6 linked regions of the Homo sapiens genome follow. The protein of the gene in region 2 purifies or fractionates together with the protein of the main gene of each other region. This does not show direct contact. Each region holds a gene or a part of one and is shown on either strand. Other genes may lie near its edges.

Region 1 (3,500 bases), on a different chromosome or scaffold from region 2:
CACTATAGTTTTACACTTTTCTTAATGCGGGACTCTGACTTAAACTTTGAAATTTTTGGATTGTAACTGTCCTTTCTTATGTTTAATTCAAACTGTTCCAATGTGATTTCCATTAGTTTCTTCTTATTCTTTTTATAGTGGAGTTAGAATTTGAATACTTATTCACTTTTTATTATTATTAATATTTTCCTATGTAGAAAGATAATTCCTCTGTCAGTGACTTAATTGCATTTTCCCCTAATAGTGGTTATAAGAATCCATTTGTACTTTCTCACACAGGAGGCCCTCAGTTCAAGATAGCTATTAACCACCAATAACAAAATTACTATATAATAGTCCATCATTCTTAAGCTTTTTTCCAGCTAAAAATGCATCTCCTTTAGCTGTTCCAGGCATTTAATTTTTATTGTCAACTTTTATTGTCATGCAATTCTCCATGCAGAGTTGCTATTGTTATCAGTAAAATCAATAGTATTTTATTTTAAAATAAAATACATCTAATTAAAAAGTAGATACACATGCTCTTATTTCCATTTTCCATATTTACACGACACTCAGATATAGGTTAGTACCAACAACTCTGATGGGAAGAGGGAGTAAGGGATGATGCAAGGCAAAGAGTTGGAGCCACAAAGCAGTGCTTCAATCGTAGTCTATAAGAGTTGGAAATGGTAAAGAGGCAACTGGAAAAATCTAGAGCAGGTGGCAGCAAACCTCAGTCCATAGGCCAAATCCAGTCTACTTCCTGTTTTGTAGGGCCCAAAAGATAAAAATATGAATGATTTTACATTTTTTACACATTGAAAAAGAATCAAGACTATTTTGTAACTTATGAAAATTCTATAAAATTCAAATTTCATGTTCACAAATAAAGCTTTATTGGAGCACAGCCTCACTCATTTGTTTATGGATTATGTAGGGTTGCTTTTACACTACAACAGCAGAGTTGATTACTTGTGACAGAGATTTAATGGCCCACAAAGCTGGAAATAGACTCTTTCTGGCCCTTTACAAAAGTTTGCTGGCCCCTAATCTAGAGAATTAACTTCAGTAGTTTGGTGGCCTAGTGTTTACATTAAAGAATCTCTCCAATTTAAGAATTATACTTAGGTTGGTTATCTCACATATATCAGGAGTTCTTATTTTCTGAGATAATTCCATAGGAATCCAGAATCGGTCCCAGAAGAGGATGTGGAATTTATTTGTTCTTTAAGATTAGGAAAGAGATCAGCCTAAAGAAAATCATTTAAACAGTGATGGCTGTCATACAGGGGAGATGGACTCTAGAAACATAGAACGCTGGTGAGTGATCAAGAAACCCCCAAATCCTTTGGGGGGTATAGAGGCATTTAATAAATTTTAGTAGTTTTATTGTGCATGTATTTGAAAAACATCTAACATGTTTTCTATAAGTTATTTCATTATTTGAAACCTTAACTTATTAATATTTAACTGAAGTGAAAGATATTGGAGCTGTCATAATCTTCTTCAATATAGGAAGCCTCAATAGAAGATTGATTTCTTATATGACACAATTTTGAAAGATGCCAGAAATAACTGACTCCTTTTACACTTAAGTGACAGCTACTCTAAGCCTCCCCTAGTTTCCCATTGTAACCAGTGTCAAAGGAAAGCAGCATTTTGAAGGAATTATATTTCAGCACTAAACCAGGTGAGCACGTGTGCTAGTGCGTGCACACACACACACACACACACACACACACAGTCTTTTTTTGATGAACAATGGGCTTAGGTTTCCTTTGGTCCAAGTACCCCATGGAAAGATTTTAAAAGGCCTAATGCATTAAAGTGATCTAAACTGTCTTGCAAATGTTGCCACTGTTTTTTTTTTAATTTTTAATTTTTGTGGGTACATAGTACGTGTATATTTTTATGGGGTACATGAGATGTTTTGATGCAGGTATGCAATGTATAATAATCACATCATAGAAGATGGAGTATCCATCCTTTCAGGCATTTATCCTCTGTGTTACGAATAATCCAATTATATATACTCATACTTATTGTAAAACATACAATTAAATTATTATTGACTATAGTCACCCTGCTGTGCTATCAAATACTAGGCCTTATTAATTCATTCTAACTATTTTTGTACCCATCAAATTTTTCTTTTTATAATTATATACAGGCAATAGTTACTGTGTGTATGAAGTGATATACTGGTACTAATCAACCTATTAAATTGTTAAATGACTTTCCCATCAATCCCCTCTTCCTGCCACCCATTCCCATCACCTCCTTCTATTTACATAGGCATATGAATGTCTCAACTTAATCAGTTACAATGGGAATGTTAATTTATTATAACAGATGTTAATGTGTGCGTTGAAGGAGGAATTCTATTTTTAAAAAGCGCTTGTAGGGTAGGGGAAATGTTAAAACCTCAGTTTCTGGCAGGAACATTCAGAAATATAGGCAAGAGTTTCTTTAGAATCAAAATCTGCTATTCTGCAAAAACAATGGGTCCAAGAAAACTGGAAATGCCAACTAACACAAATTCATTTTTTATTTATATAAAGAGAAACACGATCATGGATAGAATTCAGGAAATTTCATTAATATTATTCTTTGGGAGCAATAGTAATCAAGGCAGGTTTCATCAAGTTTGGTTACCTCCGTAATACAGGATGTGACGTGACAAGACAATCTACTTCTTGCTTCTATTTGAGTATAACATAGAAAGAACTCAAAGGGGGTGGAGTGGATCAGAAACAAATGAAACCTCTTGCTTCTTGGCTTTATCTAATGACTCTTTTTGGCCTTTTTTCTCCTGAAATCAAGACTCTAAATTTGAATGCACTTACTAAGTCAATCACAAAATATTTTTTAAACTTCCAATATATTATATAATAAAATGTTTAGTACAGAATGCGTTTGATGGGTATGCTGATTTTAAGGGACGCAATCATTTTCTACAAAAGTTTAGCTACTTATAGGTTACAAATCTATGAGGTCATTATAGATTTGTAATCTATAGATCATTTCAAATGGAATAAAATATCAAATAATTGGATGATAACTAGAATTAGAATTCTTGGAATAGATGGTTTGTGCCTGTATTATAATGACATGTGCCTTTTTTTAAATGCAGTTTATGAAATAAGATTAAAATGGACCTATATTTACCATTAGAGGGGAAATTTTTTTAAGTCATTATCCTTAGGTTAAGCTTTAGAAATTTTATTGTTAAAGCCTAAATATGAATTTAGGAATACCCTAAGAAAAGCATGATTTCCTTGTTTCTTTTCCCTTTCAAAATGAAACACAGAAGACTGTTTTTAATCAGAGATGGAGGGGTGGTTTCTGAAGGTCAGGAGCAAGGATTCCTGTGTATGAGCCACTTGCCCAACAGTGTGGTCTATTTCTAGTTCCTAGATGGGTATACCATAGGAGCAGCTGAAAGAGAGTTGGGATAGGTTCAAAGAAAGAAGCCTCTAGCATCTTGGTTTTATGTAATGACTCTCCTTGGCCTGAAG
Region 2 (2,602 bases):
GTCTCTGATTTCATATTCATACAGAGGGATGCAGTAAAAAATCCCTTTCTCTCCATTCTTAAAATCAGTGGCTTTCACAATACATCAGGTATTTGGCTTAATCTCTGCATTTCAGATAGAATACCAGTCATCTTAGAGGCTGAAATAGGGATCACCATGTCCTACTGAATGCTCTCAAAAGACACCTGCAGCGTGCTGAGATCCAGCAGAATCTCATCACCATTCAAGCAGACTGAGACCCACTCGCCTCATATAGAAGGTCCCTGACCTCCCGGAAGGTTGAATGGTGGGGCGCCTGTGACAGTAGGAGTGGGCTGGCTATGCCCGTGTGTCTACCTGTGCTCTGATAAGAGGCAGGGACAGAGCAAGGCTGAAGAGAGCCTTGATCAGCTCCTCAATTCCAGTGTCCTTGAACCATAGTCCATCTGTTTGCACCCTAGGTTGGTGTCCTTGTCAGTAAGGCCGAGGGAAAATTCCTCTTGCCTGTGTGACCCAAACTCTACATGTCTGACTCAACTCAGAAAAAGCTGGGGAGAAGCCCAGGGGTCTGGTAACTTCACCTGGGAGCTGCTGCTGAGGGCACATATGTATCCCGGAGGAGCTGTGAGTTTCTCCCCCAACTGAGTAGAGGAAACAGAGGGGAACAAGGAGGGGGTGCTTTGTAAGGCAGGTGTAATCTGGATTAAAAGAAATTGTACTCCAAATATTGGATTTCTGAGACCTATATTGGAAGAGTCAATTTAGATGGCTAGAAAAGGAAAAAAAAAAAAAATCTAAAACAGCTTTCAAAAATACTAAGAAGTGGCACTACCCTCATTTTACAAGATACCATCGATCTTATTTTGAGGTGAAAAAGAGCCACAAATGGGTCCTTTCTGAGACACAGCTATGAAAGAAAGAAAAAATAATGTATCCGAGGAATTTCCTGTCTGCCCAGGCTGGGCACACACTGATTGCAACTGAGACTGCCCTCTGGGATCCTCCGTCTCCAAAGCTCTGTGTCCAGTGGAGACCAGGAAACTTTAAAAAAGGTTAGGAATTGAAAAAAAAAAAAAAAAAAAAAAATCAGGTGAGGGCATGAAACTGACCACAAGATGGCCTTTGGAATGGAGCAGAGAGGAGCTTTTCTTTCTCACTAGCCTCTGTTACCTGCTTTGGAAAAATAAATCCCCACTGCAGAATATTTTTGCCCAGTTTCTGGACTGCTGGGCCTGTGTGGTCTTTTCATATTTTCCACTTTGCAGCGCTGCGCTCCCAAGCTAATCCCAAGCTGCCGAGGCCTTCCAAATAACTTGGACAGCCTTCCATCCTTATCTTACGCCTTAGACACATGGTTCTCACAGCCATCTCAGGGGCGGCTCTCTGGACTAGCATGTATCTGTCTGCAGCACAGCAGCATCTGTGATGATTTTGGCCTCCCTCAGATGGGTGGCCCAATGCTGGGATGCGGGTTTGATTCTGTGCTGCTGGCCACAAAGCACCCGGGTCACTGATTCTGTTTAGGTGCCAACAATCCCCAAGACTCTCCAAGAGGCTGAACTCTGTCAGAAGGCATCTGAATCTCAACTGCAGGCAGGGCGGGAGGACAGAGGGGACCAAGGGAAGAACAGAGCAAGAGAGAGAAAAAGAGAGCTCTCCTTTTCATTTTATCTTTTTTAAAAGCATTTTTTTTTTTCAGCCAAGACCCAACAGTAACAGGAACAGACCTGATCCACGTGGCAGGAAAAAGAGGAACCTGAACCCCTCTGCAAGTATTCTCTTTCCTGACCAGCTGGGCTTGCCGCACTTTGTGAGATTTGCAAAAAATATATATATAATAGATATATATTTCCATAGGAAAACAACATCAGATGTCTTCCCCTAGATGAACGATGAAGAGTCAAACTGCAGGTTCTTAAAACAAAAACAAAAACAAAAACACCATGATACTAACAACGGTGGAAGGGTGAGGGTGAGGAATTACAGATGGAGAGATTCCAAATCAGAAGGAAACGTGACATGGAGTCCCAGGCTCATGCCCTCCGCCAGAATTCCAGCCCCGCCTGTGCTGGGTAGTTTGTCTAAGGTGCTCCAGGGTCCCTCTTGGTCTGCAAGAGAAGTGTCCCTGCCATTTCTGGGTCGCTTCCTTTTCCACTCTCCTCAGCCCGCCTGCTCCGTCACACTTCCAGCAATCCTGGTGGGCAGGGGTTCCCTGGGCTGCTGGCCCGCTGAGGTGGACTGTTGGTTCCTTCAGCATTCATCTTCTTGGTATATTTGTTCATCCAGCTCCTGGGACTCTAGGTGCTCCAGACGGTCTGTTCGGCCACTCATGATTTCATCTGGGGTTTTCATAAACCTTTGGAAGAAGAAGTGGAGGAGGTAAGAGATTCCATTTTCCTAAAGCTGTCTTCACTCTGAACTCTAGCCTGTATATAAAGAAAGACTCCATCATCTTATACAGCTGGAGAGCTACTGAACCCCGAGATTAATGTTAACTTAGTGCAAATTAGGAAAAGGTACTCCTTTCTCTGACTGTCTAAAAAGTGGTAAAATGCTTATTTAAAAAGACTAGGGCCAGGCATGGTAGCTCATGCATATAATCCTAGTGCTTTGGGAGGCCAAG
Region 3 (3,500 bases), on a different chromosome or scaffold from region 2:
GGGGGGGATGCGGGCACCAGGCCATGCTGTCCGGGCCACATTCCTCAGGCCACCCTCCGGCTGTTCTTGCACCTTCCATTCCAGCTGTGGGCAGGACAAGCCTGGTTCTCCCCACCGCCCTCAGTCTGCAAGCTGTGCCTCTGTTAGCACAGCCAGGGGCCATGTCCGTCCTCGAAGCCTGGCTGCCCTCCCTCCTCAGGGTCCCACAGCCCGGCTGCTGTTCCTGCTGGTGTCTGAAACGCTTGGAGGTAAGAAAGGAACTCCTCCCGCCCATGATGGACCATGCACTTCCAGAGCCCACACCGCCCCCAACACACACTCCTGCCTTGGGTCTGCAGAGGACACACATGCACTGCAGCGCCTCACACATGTCCCCAGGACAGCACACACCCGCACCCCCTTCACTCTAGAACACGTGTGCACCCGCTGGGCGCACACAGGGCGGAGCGGCCCCTGCCAGGCTCCCCCGCCGGCGGGATGGCCTGGGGCAGCGGCGTGTTGCCTACAGGTCGGGGTTCTGGTGGCTGCACACGACGCCCGCATCCTCGTCGTGCTCGCAGTTGTGGGTGCCCACGCCGTTGTGCTGGCACTCCAGCAGGTTCCGCTCCCAGCCCGCGCAGCGCACATCGTCCAGCAGAATGGGCAGCGAGCCGCCCTGGCCGAACTCGGCTCTCTTGACGGCGCGCACGGCGTAGGCAAACCCCAGCTGGCGACACACGACGGCGGCGCCGCTGATGTTCCAGGAGTCGTCGCACACGGTGCCCCAGCGTCCGCCCACGAACACCTCCACGCGCCCGCTGCCAGAGCTCAGGCCCGCGGGCCGCACCAGGCGCACCTCGCCATCCCGGAACGCCCGGCTCGCCGAGTTCAGCCGCCCCCGCCGCCGCCCGCCGCCCCTCCGGCTCCCTGGCTGCTGGGTGGGCCGCGCTGGCCGCGGGGTTGGCGCGGGGGGAGCGGCCGTGGGGCGCCCTCGGCGGGGCGCCCGCGTGGGCGCCCGCGCTGTAGGCCGCGGGGTGCTCCGTGTCTTCGGGATGAACTCTGCGCAGAGGAAGAGTATGCCGTCAGAGGGACCCAGGCGCCCCTGTCCAGCCCTGCTGCCCACCCTGTGCTGCCCTGCAACCTGTGCGGAGAGCGCAGACTCGGGGAAGGATGTCCTGGGTCTGTCCTGCACTCACACCCAGAAGACGGGATGCCGCCTGCGCTCCCAGTCGTGCTTCCCAGGTCACCCGGACCCAGCAAGATGCCGGCCTGGACTCAGGGGCCAGGGGCTTTTTCAGTCATACAGCAAACACTATCAACTGCTTTGTGCCAGTCTGCTGTTGCTGCGTCTCCCTACCCCAAGCCCCACCTTCCCAGGAGTCCCTAGGTTGGTGGGGGAGCCAGCTCCTGGCACTTCATAACTCTGGAAGGCAATGAAAGGAAGGAGTGTCTGGGAAGGCTTCTAAGAGAAAGTCACCGTTTCATCTTCCAGGCCTTGGTTGTGAGGGTGAGGAAGCTGAGGCCCACAGATGGGTAAAAACTGCTGCGGGTCTGTGGTGGCCAGTGGCCAGCAGGTTGGGAACGGGATACACACAGGGATCCCTGGGGTCAGGGTGAATCTCTTTCCTCCTGGTTCCCAAGGTTGGCACCAGCGGGTTGTCACAGCGGGTACGATGGGGGAACTCTGGTTGTGTCTGGGGAACAAGGCAGAGCCCCTATACCCCACCACAGAGCCTGGGTGCAGTCGGTGCTAGGGAGCTGAGGCAGGTGATTTCCTTTGTCTCTGCAGAATGTGGGGACACGCTTGGCCCAGGTCAGCCACAGGGATAGACCTCAATCTACACTTTGCTGTGCCCAGCTCTACTCCACACAGGTGCAGTGCCAGGCACTGGGCACTGCCATGCGTCACAGCCCAAGACTGTTCAATTACTATGGGGAGGATCCTGGGGCCACCAGGCCAAACCTCTTTAATCCCGCCCCACTTCAGCCAGTCCCACTTTGAAAACCACTGAGAGAGAGCTGAGAAAGGGCCTCTCAGCACAAGGCCAAGCACAGGCCAGGGCCCAGAGCACCATGACATGGGCAAGGCGCTCCCTGTCCCTGCACCCTGGCCCCTGGCCCCCACCTCCTGCTCCTCAGGCTGCCTCACCTCTCCCACTGTGGCTCTTGCTGTTCCCTCTGCCTGCACTGCCACCCCCCTCGGTGCACCCTCCTGAGTGAACCTCCCTCTTGGTGCCAGCCCCCCTCAGTGCACTCCCCCAGGTGCACCCCCCCGTGCAACCTGCCTGGGTGCATCCCCCAACTCTGTGCACCCCCCCTCCATGCCGCCCCCCTCAGTGCACCCCCCCTCCATGCCACCCCCCTTAATGCACCACCCCCTCCGTGCCACCCCCTCAGTGCACCCCCCTCCATTCCACCCCCCTCAGTGCAACCCCTCCAGGTGCACCCCCCTCAGTGCACCACCCCCTCTGTGCCACCCCCCTCAGTGCACCCCCCCTCCATGCCATCCCCCTCAGTGCACCCCCTCCAGGTGTACCCCCCTCAGTGCCATACCCACTCAGTGCCATCCCCCTAGCTGCCACCCCCCTCAGTGCAACCCCCTATTGGTGCACCCTTCCTCTTCTTTTCAGACTCCAGGAACCCCTACCCCCAACCCCAGTCTCCACTGTTCTGGGTGGGTCCTCACGGTACCTGGCACACACTTCGATCACAAGGCCTTGGACAGTAAATGACATCTCTGTCCGTCCCAGCCAGAACAGGGCCTAGTCTGACTTCTCACTGTGGCTCTGGCATCCAGCATGGAGCCAGTAACTAACAAAAGTGCCAGAAACTGCTGAATGAGTAAATGAAAAACTCACCAAGCCCTGAAACCAACTGTGGCCAGAACTCACTTCCAAAATCACTGAGCTCAGACCCTTCCCCCTCTACCCGGGTACCTCTTCAGCCCAGGTGCCTAGCCTCCCTCTCTTCTTGCCCTCCCCACCCCCATACACACCCAGTCTGCCAATGGGTGGCCTGCTGAGCCCACTTGGCCTGCTGAAATATTTTCCTTGGCTCGCGGAGTGGTTTTTAAAATTCTGAACTAGTCGCCAACACTTTGAATTGGGAGGTTGTACCTAACAGGCTGAGAAGGCGAGGACTGCAGTGTCTCGCCGTGTGCTGTATCCCCAGGGCAGGGCACGTGTCCGTGGTGAATGAGTGGATGGGGGGATTTTCTGCTTCTCTGAAGAATTGGAAGACCTGGCAACACAGGGTCTTTGTTCCCACCTAACTTGGGCCCAGGGGAACAGCCCCAGCCTGGGGCATCCCCTTCCCCCAGTCCCAGGCCCCATGGGCAGTCATTTGTGGCCCTGCTCTGTCGTCTCTCCTCATCAGGCTTGTCAACAATCTATGAAGGCCCAGCCCATATGCCAGCCCCTCCCACAAACAACTCTTCCGGTCTCCCTTGCTTACACACAGATACATCCTCTTTCTCTGTCCCTCCCAAGAACTCACAGAGTACCTTGCCTGGCACCAGCTAT
Region 4 (4,275 bases), on a different chromosome or scaffold from region 2:
CTGCACGGACTTTTTTTTCAAACTAGAAAGGCACAGAACAAAACCCCTCCTTCCCAGGGGCCCTCAGAAGGTGTCCAGATTCTAAGCGACACGGCAGCACACACCTGCACCAGCCCTCGCTTGTACATGGCGCACAGGATGAAGAGCGAGTCTGCCGACCACTCGATGTGCTGGATCTGGTCTAGGCACGTGTACAGCTGAAGGATCTGAAGGGTGTTCACATCCCGGACCACTAACCGGTACTGGACACAGGAAGCCTAAAAAATATGAGAAAGCAAGCACCTGACATTCTCCACTCCAAAAGAGGGGGGCCTTCGGAATGCTACTGCCCTGGCCTTCAGTGACTGTGGCCTTCTCTCCTGCCAGAGGTTTCATGTCTAGATCACCAGTGACATCCCCAGCCCCTAAAGATCAGTTCAGTTCATACAAGGGTAATGTTGAAATATACAAGCCAGGTTTTAATATTGCTATACTCTATTGTAAAGTATAAAAGTATGTTTTAACTCGCTACTTAAAGCTTTAAGACATTTTTAAGTCCCTTCTTATCTGTATGTTAAAAACTAAACTTAAATGGGAAGTAGCATTGGGAGAAAGCTCTTCTGTGAACTAATAACCAAAATCCTCTGCTAGTTTTATAAACACTTTTGGACAATTTCCTCAAATTTATAAAGGGTAAGAATTGAGGCTTCACAGATGACAACGAAAATGGCAAGGAATGCATCAATCTTCTTATGCAGTGCCGAACTCAGAGCCAAAACAACAGAAGATCAAAAGACAGGCTTTCACTTCTGCACACATAAAGATGCTTCGCAAATGCTCATTTATCTCCATTAACCTATTCCTAACACGAAACGGGAAATGTTTAAGTGTTAGTACTATTTTCTTAAAGATAGTTTCTTCTTGTCCATATTTGTTCATTATGTCCCTATCCAAGCAAACAATTTCAAGTAAAAATAACGCCTGAGTACTCACCTGCTGAATGTATATTTTACTACAGTTTCAAGATCAAGAACTGATGTTTAAATATTAACTGCTTCGTTAGTTTTACTTATCAAGGTCAAAGTAGTTTGTGTTTTATGAACCGATATCAAAAAAGAAAGCCACGTTAGTTTTCCGTGGGAGAAAAGAGAGACAGGCGGGTGACGGCAGATTGGAACAAGGAGCTACCACAGCACTTACTTTCTCACACTGTAGCTTTGAAAACTGTGATCAGTTACAGTGAATTCCTTATGAAATGGAATATTTTTACCAACACCTTGAGGAACCACATAAACTCTACTGCAAGATATGAAAACTAGAAACATGGACCTGCTCTCCCCAGTCCTCAGGGCTTTCAAGAAGATGATTCCAGTAACAGATCATTACCAAGTGTTTCAGGGTATTTTGACCAGAGTGTACAAGCTGGAAAAAAACACCCAAGTTAAGCAAGCAGATGTAATCTTTCTCCTTATAATTCACTGAAATTTTCATAAATGGTAAAAACAAAAAACAAACCTCTCATTTAATTGAGGAGGGGGGCACATTGAAAATATACCAAGGCTGAGATGCCATTTAAACTAATGAGGTTTTCTGTTTTGTAGCTGATGCTATTTTATGTGATTTGGAATAAAACCTCCCTGAAGAGGTAAAAAACGTAATTTGAGAGTTAAACTCTCAAAAGCTAGACAGAGCACAGGAATGTCAGGAGTGGCAAAACCTGAAAAAGCATCATGATACATCAGTCAGTTAGTACAGGTGGTGGATAAGGAAAACGAAGCCCACTTTTTACGAGGCATGTTTCTTCTTAGTGGCTTTCCAATGCCAATTGTCCCCCTCTTCTGAGGACATACATACTAGGCATCCGGGTTATCCCTCTCTTCTGAGGATATACACTACTAGGCATCCAGGTACATACACTATATGTTTTGAAGCTTAAAGTTATAGCTCTGTGATTTAAGCACCCTTCTGCCACCCATGGAACGAAGACCTCAAATCCCAGCCATGAGGACAACTACTTCCTTACCTGGGGATAGAATACTAGTATTTAAATCATTTATTCGGCATGTGGTAGAGGAGAAGAGAATTAGAGGAGAAGTAGAGATGACAAAGTAGCCACACCACTTACCAGTTTACAGGCAACAGAATCATCAATTTGCCTTTTGTGACAAAGTAACAACAAAGAGCCGACATCTCCTATACCCTCACCTGTGTGCAGTCGGCACTGCCGATACCCACCTTTCCAAGGGCACCTCCCCAGACCCCCCACCTGTCTACGGTATCTTCCTGGGTCCCGCACCTGCCCGGGCACCTGCCGGGGTCCTGCACCTGTCCGGCCCCCATATCTGCTTGGGGTACCTGCCTGGGCCCCGCACCTGCTTGGGGTACCTGCCTGGGCCCCGCACCTGCTTGGGGCACCTCCCCGGGCCCTCCACCTGTCTAGGGTATCTTCCTGGGTCCCGCACCTGTCTGGGGCACTTGCTCAGACACTGCACCTGCCCCGGGTACCTGCCCGGGCCCCGCACCTGTCCGGGCACCGCACCTGCAGGATCCCCAAGCTGCCTCCACCCACGCGGCCGCCCCCGGCCCTGCCCGCCGGGGACGCTGGCACCGAGGATGTCCTGCCCGTGGCCCAGGTCCCCGCCGCTCACCAGGTACTTGCCGTCCGGGGAGAACTTGCAGAGTAAGCTGGAGAGCTTGAATACCTCGGAGAAGTTCATGGCCGCCGCCTGCCGCGGGCGCCACCCTGCGCCCGAAAACCCGCGGGACCCCTGGGCGCGCAGCAGGCTGCAACAGCCGACGCCGGCCTCCGAGGCCGGAAGTCAGAAGGCGGAAGTGAACTGCAGCCTATCAGCGCCGCCGGCTTCCGCGCGGCATTGTGGGGCTTGTAGTTCTTGTGCCGCAGGGCTTTAAAGGAAACGCCCACGTTTCTTCCGACCAGGGATTTCCGACCCGAGAACCTTACCTCAAAGGCCGGGAGGCCTTTGAGCACCTCCAGCTAGGGCTGCTGATAAAAATGTAGAAAGCACAGTAAAATTTGAATTTCAGATTCACAACAAATCTAGTTATAAGTATGTTCCCAAATATTGCACGGGACATGCTAATACGGAAAAATTACTCGCTAGTCTGAAATTCAAATTTAATTGAGCGACCTGTGTGTCTGCGTGTGTGTACACATGCATATATATATATTTATATTTATATGTAAATGTATGTTTACATGTAAATATATGTTTACCTACAAATATATCTTTAATAAGTAATACGGTGTCTGTCGCACATATATTATATCGTGTATGTAATGTATAAGTATTTATTTCGTTTGCTTGGGGTTTTGTTTGCTTTTGCTGAGTCCGACCCCTCTACCTGCCGCCTGGCCCTTGCCTCACGCTCCAGTGCCACTGAGATCAAGGAGAGAACGAATTTGCCGCTGACTGGGCAGAGCGAGCGCGTGGATCGCGGCCACCGCCCGTTCATCACCCGCGCGCATCTGGGCTGGCACCGGGCGAAGAATCGTGCGGGTCTGGGACCTGGGGGCCCAGAGGGAGCGAGCTCCTGCGCGGGCGCTCGGTCCGCAGGTTTCGCAGGCTCAGGGGCGTGCCTCGTTCTCACCCCCACTCCGGACCCCGGTCCTCTTCCCTAGACAGCGGCCCCCTCCACCCCTGGCTCCCGCAGGCCGCTAGTAGTCCGCGCCAGGCCCCGCCGGCGCCTCTAGGGCCCCCCAGATCGCGCAGACCCTGACATCCCCGCCTGGCCCTGGGTTCTGGGAGCTGAGAGCCGGCCAGGGTCCTGCTCGTACCTCCGGGCGCCCAGCCTCGGGTCTGCTCCCCGCGGACGCCCCAACCTCCCCGGCCGAATGGATGGTGGTGCGCGCGCGTCCTACTCCGGCGGTGCCGGCCTTTTCTGTTGCCAAAACTAGACCCAAACCTCTGCATGGGATTCGTCTTTGGGTCCCCACCCCGTGCGCCCAGCAAACAGTGGGTGAGCCATGAAGATGTGCGAGTCAGCCGGACCCTCCCCGTCAGGCGCGGACCCGCTGCGGCCAGAGAACCCAGTCTGCGCCAGCCCGGCTCGCTCGCGAAGCCACGGGCTTCACTGACGCGACTTTCCAAGACGTGGGGGTCACCATGGGCAGAGGACATCGGTTCGGAGCCAGATCACGGGCCCCATAAGCATCAGACCATAAGCAGCGCCGCCACTGAGAGCCGCTCGGAACTCGCCCAGCATGTCGGGTCCCCTAGCCAGGGCCTGGTGTACGTGGTCGAGGGCCCTGGAAGCCCCGATGGCCTAGGAGGAGCA
Region 5 (3,500 bases), on a different chromosome or scaffold from region 2:
TTAATGAACCAGAATGACTGCTACTCAGCAGGAAGAAATCATTTCATGTTGAATCAGGAGGAGGAAAGTCTCCTGGAGGGATATCTCCAGAAAAAAAAAAAAGAAAAGAAAGAAACTGACTTGTTGCCAGATGTAGTTGGCCATTTTGAAAAGAATTTCACAGTTCTGTTGCATAACTTAGTGATAAGTACAATAAAAACTAAGCCAATTTCAAAAAGGATTCAAATGTTAACTTTAGAAAAAAATGAATTTATACCAAAAGGACACTGTGATAATAATATTAACACTACTATACCTCCATGTGCTTGGCACTATTCTAAATACCACGCTTGTATTGTCTCTAAATCCTCATAACAACCCTATAAGGTAGGCAATTTCATTAGGACTATTTTACTGATGAGGAAAGTAAGGTACAGAGATGTTAAATGACTTGAACAAATACCACAACCCAGATTTGAACCTGGAAGTCTGACTCTAAAATCCAGACTCTAGTGTAGTCAGTTTGCTACATGGCTTACTTGTGAGCAGTATTCTATGATTGTCAACATATGCACACTTAATACTGATCTAACCTGTAATTATGACATAATTATATATTGAAAAAACAGGGGAGGGGAAATATGTTAGGAGTGAGTGGGGTAATAATAACATTTCTAAACCTCATCTTCCCTCTTAGACAGTCAATACATAATGGTTAAAACTGGAAAAATAAAACAATCTATAACAATATAAAGTTATTATTTAAAACACATAAGCAGGCCAGGCGCAGTAGTTCATGCCTGTAATGCCAGCACTTTGGGAGGCCAAGGCGGGCGGATCACGAGGTCAGGAGTTCAAGACCAGCCTGGCCAATATGGTGAAACATTGTCCCTACTAAAAATACAAAAATTAACCGGGTGTGGTGGCAAGTGCCTGTAGTCCCAGCTACTTGGGAGGCTGAGGCAGGAGAATCGCTTGAACCCAGGAGGTGGAGGTTGCAGTGGGCGGAGATCGCACCAGAGATCGCACCACTGCACTCCAGCCTGGGCAACACAGTGAGACTCCGTCTCAAAAAAACAAACAACAACAACAACAAAAAATAAGTAAATATCAGAAGAAACAGCTAAAATAATTTGGAGAGGAGAACTGGATTTGGAGATGAGAAAGGGACTTTTTCAATATTCAACAAGAAAAGGCTTTTTCAATATTACCCTTGAAGTAATATTTGAGTTTTTAAACTATGCATTTGTATTTCTGTGATTTAAAAAATCAATTTAAAGGGAAATTATAAATGTTGGAGAAAGGTAGGGAGGGATGGTATCTAGTACTGAAATGGGCACTTTGATAGTACTGATAGGAACCAGGACTCCCGTGACTACCAGGAAAGGTGTTGCTGGTCTTATAACTACCCACTGGGGTGTGGGATACAGCCTCTCAAGTCGGGTCATACCTTCTGCACCAAACACCTCTCCGCAGTGAGAGCAGAAGAAGTGCTCTGGGTGCCAGGTCTGGTTCATTGCTGTCAGCACTTTCTGGAAAGGGAACACACAGATATTATAATGATGCAGAAGTTGTAAAGCATGACTCTGGTTCTAAGTGAGTGACTGAAAGCTGGAGAGGAGCGGGGATTTACTTACATCCAGGATGGGAGCAGCGCAGTAAGCACAGCGTGGAGAAAAAAGTTGGTGGTAGTCGTTGGGGCAGTAGGCCAAGCCACTCCGCTCAAAGAAGGGACTGGAGCCAATCTCTTCTTTGCAATGAGTACAGACAAAATGCTCAGGATGCCATGATTGCCCTAGAGCATGGATCACCTGTGGAGTGAAATAAAGCCTGACACAGGAGGCCAGTTGAGTGCTCTACAGCCTACAGGTTGCACAACTCTAGGGAGCACTCTTCACATTGTACCCCTTGTAGACAACACGCCCTGGAATTATACAACACTGAGGCCTAGACCTAGGTTCCACCTAAGGCCATCTGTGGTCTGTGCTTTATGGATTGATAATAAAAGGATGCCCACTTCCGGGACTGATCACTGTGATGAAAGCCTGTAAATGTTCACAACCACTGCACTGCCACAGGGGGTGGCAGAAACAACATATAGCACATTGATGACAGAGAAGTTGTAACTGTAGCCTTAGTGTGGAAGGGACCCCTGGAAGAGGAAAAGGCCAAATGACAGTTTTTATTCCTCTAGTTTGAACACTTTATTCCACGCCCCATGCAGTCAGGTCTCAAAGCTTTTTATCATAGCTTCGGTGAAGGACGATGCAGAACAGGAGTTTGCAGCTGTGACTTGGAGCTGAGTTCAGCTGAAAATTGTAATCAATCAATTTAGACTGGGAATGTGTGAACAAAGGGAGCAGTGAGAAAGGTCATCTCAGTAAAGGCAGTACAGAAAAATGGTCAAGAACTCAAACTCAGGAGACAGTCTCCTGGTTTCAGATCTTACCTCTACCTCTTATTATGCCTTGGATATGTCCATTAATGTCTCTGAGTCCTCAGTTTCCTCATCTTTACAAAGGGAGCAATCATTCTTCTTGAAGGGCTGATGTGACCATTAAATGAGGAAATACTTGTAAAGCACTTAGCTCAGTGGCCAGAGCACTGTAAGTGATTAGTAATTATTAATGCTAACTAAAATATCTTAAAATATAAGGGGAAAGAGCAAACCTTGATGAGACAGAGAGAGACAAAGAAGGCTGTAGGACCAAAATTTCAGCCCATCTCACCTTCCCAGCAATCGGTTTCTGGCAGGATGCACAATGGCCCTTGGGCACTGTGGCAATGCCAAGGTCCTGCAATTCCTGCTCCAGACCCCCAAGCATTGAGTCCAGGGAGGCCTTGTGATCCTGCTTGTCTGGTAAGTGCTTCTTGCCAGCATCTGCTCTCACTGCAACCTGGCCCAAGGGAAGAACCAAGAACAGAATCAGCCTCATTTTTATTCTCATTGGCATCTTCTAATGACTCTATAAATTCACCTCTACTGACTGATCTCTTGGCCTTTCCCCAACCTTCCTGCAAGACATTGGAAAAATCTAAAATTTCAACACCAATAAAAATCTTTTCATCTCCCTTTCATCCTAAACTCCTCAGGCCAAATGAAATCTGACTAATTTTATATTTGTAAATCTTTTCTTAATGTAGGAAATTTAGTACATGAAGATGATACCCTTTGAAGATCTTAGGATGACCCCAGTTCAAAAATTAGTCACATCTCCCTTTTACTCATTTATTTGGCAATAATTGTTGAATACCTGGTTTGTGCCAATCACTGCTCTAAGCACTTGGATTAAAGCAAAGATAAGACAGACCAAGTGTCTGGCCTCATGGAATTGCATTCTGTGGGCGATAGACAATAAATAATTAAATAAATAAATATATGTTGTAATGTCAGACAGAGATAAGTTATAGAAAGAGATAGAAGGGACACAGCAAGATGGTAAGAAGAATTGATTTAGATGGAGGTAATAATCAAAGAAGGCCCCTCTAAGGAAGTAATATTTGAGTAGATACTTGGGACT
Region 6 (3,500 bases), on a different chromosome or scaffold from region 2:
GGCCTCTGAAGAGACTGGGACTACAAGTGTGTGTCACAACACCAGGGTTGGGCGGTTTTAATAAGGGGAGAGGAGAAAGAGACTGAGCACATTCCCCAGCCCTTCAGGAGGCAGGGGGTTTCCGGAGGGTCCCGGGACCCGCCTCAACTTCCACCCAAAGTGGGAAGGGAGAAATGGCCCCGTCCTTAACCGAGGGACCAGCCCACATCCTTGCCGCCAGTCATGATGGGGTGGGTGCCGCCCCATTGAACTTCACGGATGCCCTACCCTCTTCCCCACCCTGCCCTTCTCACTCCAGGTTTGGCTCCTTGAAGCCAGGTTTCCACCGCACACCCGAGGCCCCGCCCCTCTTCCCCAGCTGGCCCCGCCCCTCGAAGCCCTGCCCTCATCTCTGCCGGCCCCACCTCCGCGCCCCGGCCAGGCTCACCTTGGTCTCCGCCAGTTGTCGCTTGAGCAGCTGCAGCGCTTCGGTGTGTTCCCGCTCGCTGTCTTGAAGGGCCTGAAGTTGGTCCTTCAGCTCCCTCTGAAACACACACAGGGCCGGGATGGGGGCAGGGGCCATGCCTGGCCCAGGCATTCAGCCCTGACCACTGCCAGGCGCTGGGGGTTAGCCTGGTCTCTGTCCCCAACCTCCAACACTTGCCTCCCGTCACAGTTCAACCACCAGCAAGTCCTGTAGAGTCTGTCTCCTAAACACCTCCAGAACCCGTCCGTATCTTTCACCTGCATCTTTGCAACAACCTCCTCCTCTTTGGCCACCCTAGAGGCTTCTGTGACAATCGACTTCCACATACACACTCTCTGGCTCCCCACACTTGGCCCTGGATCCCCGCTTAGAATTAAGGCAGGGGTCTCCAACCCCCAGGCCACAGGTGGGTATTGGTCCATAGCTTGTTAGGAACCTGGACGCACAGCAGGAGATGAACAGTGGTGGGGAGGGGCAAACCATCTGTATTTGCAGCCGCTCCTCATCGCTGGCATTACCACCTGACTCCACCTCCTGTTGGATCAGTGGTGGCATTAGATTCTCACAGGAGTGTGAACTGCACATGGGAGGGATCTAGGTTGCCTGCTCCTTATGAGAATCTAATGCCTGATGATCACTCACTGTCTTCCATCACCCCCAGATGGGACTGTCTAGCTGCGGAAAAACAAGCTCAGGGCTCCCACTGATCCTACATCATGTTGAGTTGTGTAATTATTCCATTATATATTACAATGAAATAATAATAGAAATAAAGTGCACAATAAATGTAATGTGCTTGAATCATCCTGAAACCATCACCCCACCCCCACCCCCTGCGGTTTGTGGAAAAATTGTCTTCCATGAAGCTGGTCCCTGGTGCTAAAAAGGTTGGGGACCACTGCTCTAAGGAACCAAAGCTGTACCAGTCCAATGCTACAGACTAGCTGCCAACATTCTCCGAGGGCTACAGTGGGCTGGGCACAGTTCTTAGCTCTTTGCTTATATTAAATCATTTGGGCCTCTCAGTAACCCTAAGGGAGGCACAATTATTATCTCCATCTTCTGATGGAGAAAAAGATACAGAGAGGTCAAGAAACTGGCCCCATAGCATACAGATAAACATATAATGGTAAAGAAGGAATTGGAACCCGGACAGCCTGGTTGTGGAGACCATGATCTTGATGCCAGGTGACACGTTTTCTACCATGATGACTCCTGCGATGAATAACAACAAATCCACAACACACAAGATATCAAAATTTTAAATAAAAACACAATCAGCCTCACTGATTTTTCCTTTGTCTCAGGTTCCAGTGTGGCTCAGCAGAGCATTGTTAGTGATCCTGGCCTTGTTTGAAATGTTGAATTTTGTTCATCGTGGGTTTTTTGCATTAATTTTGATTTAAGAAATATTGCATTAAATACTATTCATCTTGATTGCTGAGTTTGGGGCACCCTCTGATCCCACCTCTGTCTCCAACACCCTCCCCCATCACTCCCATCCAGCCAGTGGCCTTCTTCCTGTGCCTCCACCATCTTGAGCTCGTTCCAATCTTCAGACTATGCCCTGGCTATTCCCTCTGGCTGGTGGCCTCCACTCTCAGAGTTTCTCACGGTGACTCCTTTGTACCATTAATTTAACTCAGATGCCACCTCCTTGAAGAGTCTTGCCTGACCGCCCCACGCACAGTGGCACCTCCTCATACCCTGTCACACATCTGGATTCACGGTCTTCCTTGCGCCTTCTGCTGTCTGAATATATTTGACTGTGTGTTTATTGCTTATCTCCTCACTAGAATGTGAGTTTCATGAGAGTAGTAGGAATCTTGTCTGGCTTGTTCCCTGCCTTATGCCCAGGGACTCAGTGATTATTTGTCAAGTGATAAATGGGTTGTGGAGGTGAGTGCTCCCTAGCACAGGGTCCAGCTGTCTGCAGGCATTGGGAATCTAGCCCATTGTATTATCGCCAGTTGTTCTCCTGTCTGTCTCTTCTTCGTCCCCGTATTGGCCCACAAGTCCTCCAGGGTGGCTCCTACTGCTCCCTCTCCATATACCTCACACCCAGCAACAGCCTGGCACTGAGATGGGACTCAATGACGCTTGCTGCGTGAATGAAGTTCCTGGAAATGGCCTCTGAGTTCCCCAAGTCAGTCTGGGCTGTGAGCAGTGCCAGGAAGGCTGACTTACCTGTTCACATCCACCTCCCTCCCACTCATTCAGCTTGTCAGACCAGGGAGGGCCTTGGTAAATGTCTAGTTCAATTAATTTTACAGACTAGGCAGCAACATGGGAAAATATTCATGATGACATGCTGATGGAAGAATGCAGGAAACAAAATTATCTTTGATTACTATCAATTATTCATTTAAAAAACATTTCTTGGGCAACTATTATGTACCAGGCACTGTTGAGGCACTGGGATTATGGCGAAGGACAAGACAGACACAGTCCCTGATCATAGGGACTAGTCTGGTGGGGAAGACAGACAACAAACAAGGAAAATAATAAAGGAGCGAGGTTACCAATATGGTGTGTCCTGCAGAGAAAATAAAGCAGTGTGAGATGGAGGGGACTTTAGGTAGGGTGGCCAGGGAAGGCTTCTCTGAGGAGGTGACAGCAGAAGGATGAGGAGGAGCCAGCCATGAAAATGGGGGTAAGATAGAAAAATACAAGCTGCTTGTTTTGAGAGCCCATGCTGATGCAATTGTTGGAACTCTGGCAGCCATCTCAGGCCATGAGGCAACTGTAAAGACCAAAGTCACAAGCTGAAACCAGAAGAGTAGAAGGAAGAAGGAGCCCGAGTCCCTGATGACTGTGGGGCTGCCACACCATCGGTTTACTCAGTGACATGCTAGGAAGCTGGCTGTCTGAGAAAAACTTTTTTTTTTAAATCCCCAACAGTGCCAATTTCCATGGTGTAAATGTTCCCACTCAAGTGGATTTCAAGCCATCAGTGTGAAGTAGTAGTTGGACTTGGCATTGGGATGAGATGCACACAATCAGCTCTCAGGAGCCAGTGCAACCTGCCGCAGCA

Evidence for each region.
Region 1: the proteins of ETV6 (region 2) and KLHL13 purify together in Homo sapiens (affinity purification with mass spectrometry; one large-scale study listed by BioGRID and IntAct). This does not show direct contact.
Region 3: the proteins of ETV6 (region 2) and HHIPL1 purify together in Homo sapiens (co-immunoprecipitation; one large-scale study listed by IntAct). This does not show direct contact.
Region 4: the proteins of ETV6 (region 2) and WRAP73 purify together in Homo sapiens (co-immunoprecipitation; one large-scale study listed by IntAct). This does not show direct contact.
Region 5: the proteins of ETV6 (region 2) and LPXN purify together in Homo sapiens (co-immunoprecipitation; one large-scale study listed by IntAct). This does not show direct contact.
Region 6: the proteins of ETV6 (region 2) and TRIM62 purify together in Homo sapiens (co-immunoprecipitation; one large-scale study listed by IntAct). This does not show direct contact.

What each region holds. Positions count from the first base shown.
Region 1 is NC_000023.11:117,903,811-117,907,310, forward strand, and holds part of KLHL13 (kelch-like protein 13), read right to left. Parts: intron 1-3,500. UniProt on the Homo sapiens protein: Substrate-specific adapter of a BCR (BTB-CUL3-RBX1) E3 ubiquitin-protein ligase complex required for mitotic progression and cytokinesis.
Region 2 is NC_000012.12:11,890,674-11,893,275, reverse strand, and holds part of ETV6 (transcription factor ETV6), read right to left. Parts: intron 2,336-2,602; coding exon 2,230-2,335; 3' UTR 1-2,229. UniProt on the Homo sapiens protein: Transcriptional repressor; binds to the DNA sequence 5'-CCGGAAGT-3'. Plays a role in hematopoiesis and malignant transformation.
Region 3 is NC_000014.9:99,672,629-99,676,128, reverse strand, and holds part of HHIPL1 (HHIP-like protein 1 isoform a precursor), read right to left. Parts: intron 1,039-3,500; coding exon 503-1,038; 3' UTR 1-502.
Region 4 is NC_000001.11:3,647,304-3,651,578, forward strand, and holds the start of WRAP73 (WD repeat-containing protein WRAP73), read right to left. Parts: upstream 2,801-4,275; 5' UTR 2,697-2,800; coding exon 2,628-2,696; intron 258-2,627; coding exon 105-257; intron 1-104.
Region 5 is NC_000011.10:58,548,357-58,551,856, forward strand, and holds part of LPXN (leupaxin), read right to left. Parts: intron 2,877-3,500; coding exon 2,709-2,876; intron 2,525-2,708; coding exon of another isoform or gene 2,441-2,524; exon of another isoform or gene 1,797-2,440; intron 1,791-1,796; coding exon 1,617-1,790; intron 1,512-1,616; coding exon 1,430-1,511; intron 1-1,429. UniProt on the Homo sapiens protein: Transcriptional coactivator for androgen receptor (AR) and serum response factor (SRF). Contributes to the regulation of cell adhesion, spreading and cell migration and acts as a negative regulator in integrin-mediated cell adhesion events.
Region 6 is NC_000001.11:33,165,044-33,168,543, forward strand, and holds part of TRIM62 (E3 ubiquitin-protein ligase TRIM62), read right to left. Parts: intron 1,753-3,500; exon of another isoform or gene 524-1,752; coding exon 428-523; exon of another isoform or gene 1-427. UniProt on the Homo sapiens protein: E3 ubiquitin ligase that plays a role in antifungal immunity by mediating 'Lys-27'-linked ubiquitination of CARD9 downstream of C-type lectin receptors; leading to CARD9 activation, followed by activation of NF-kappa-B and MAP kinase p38 pathways.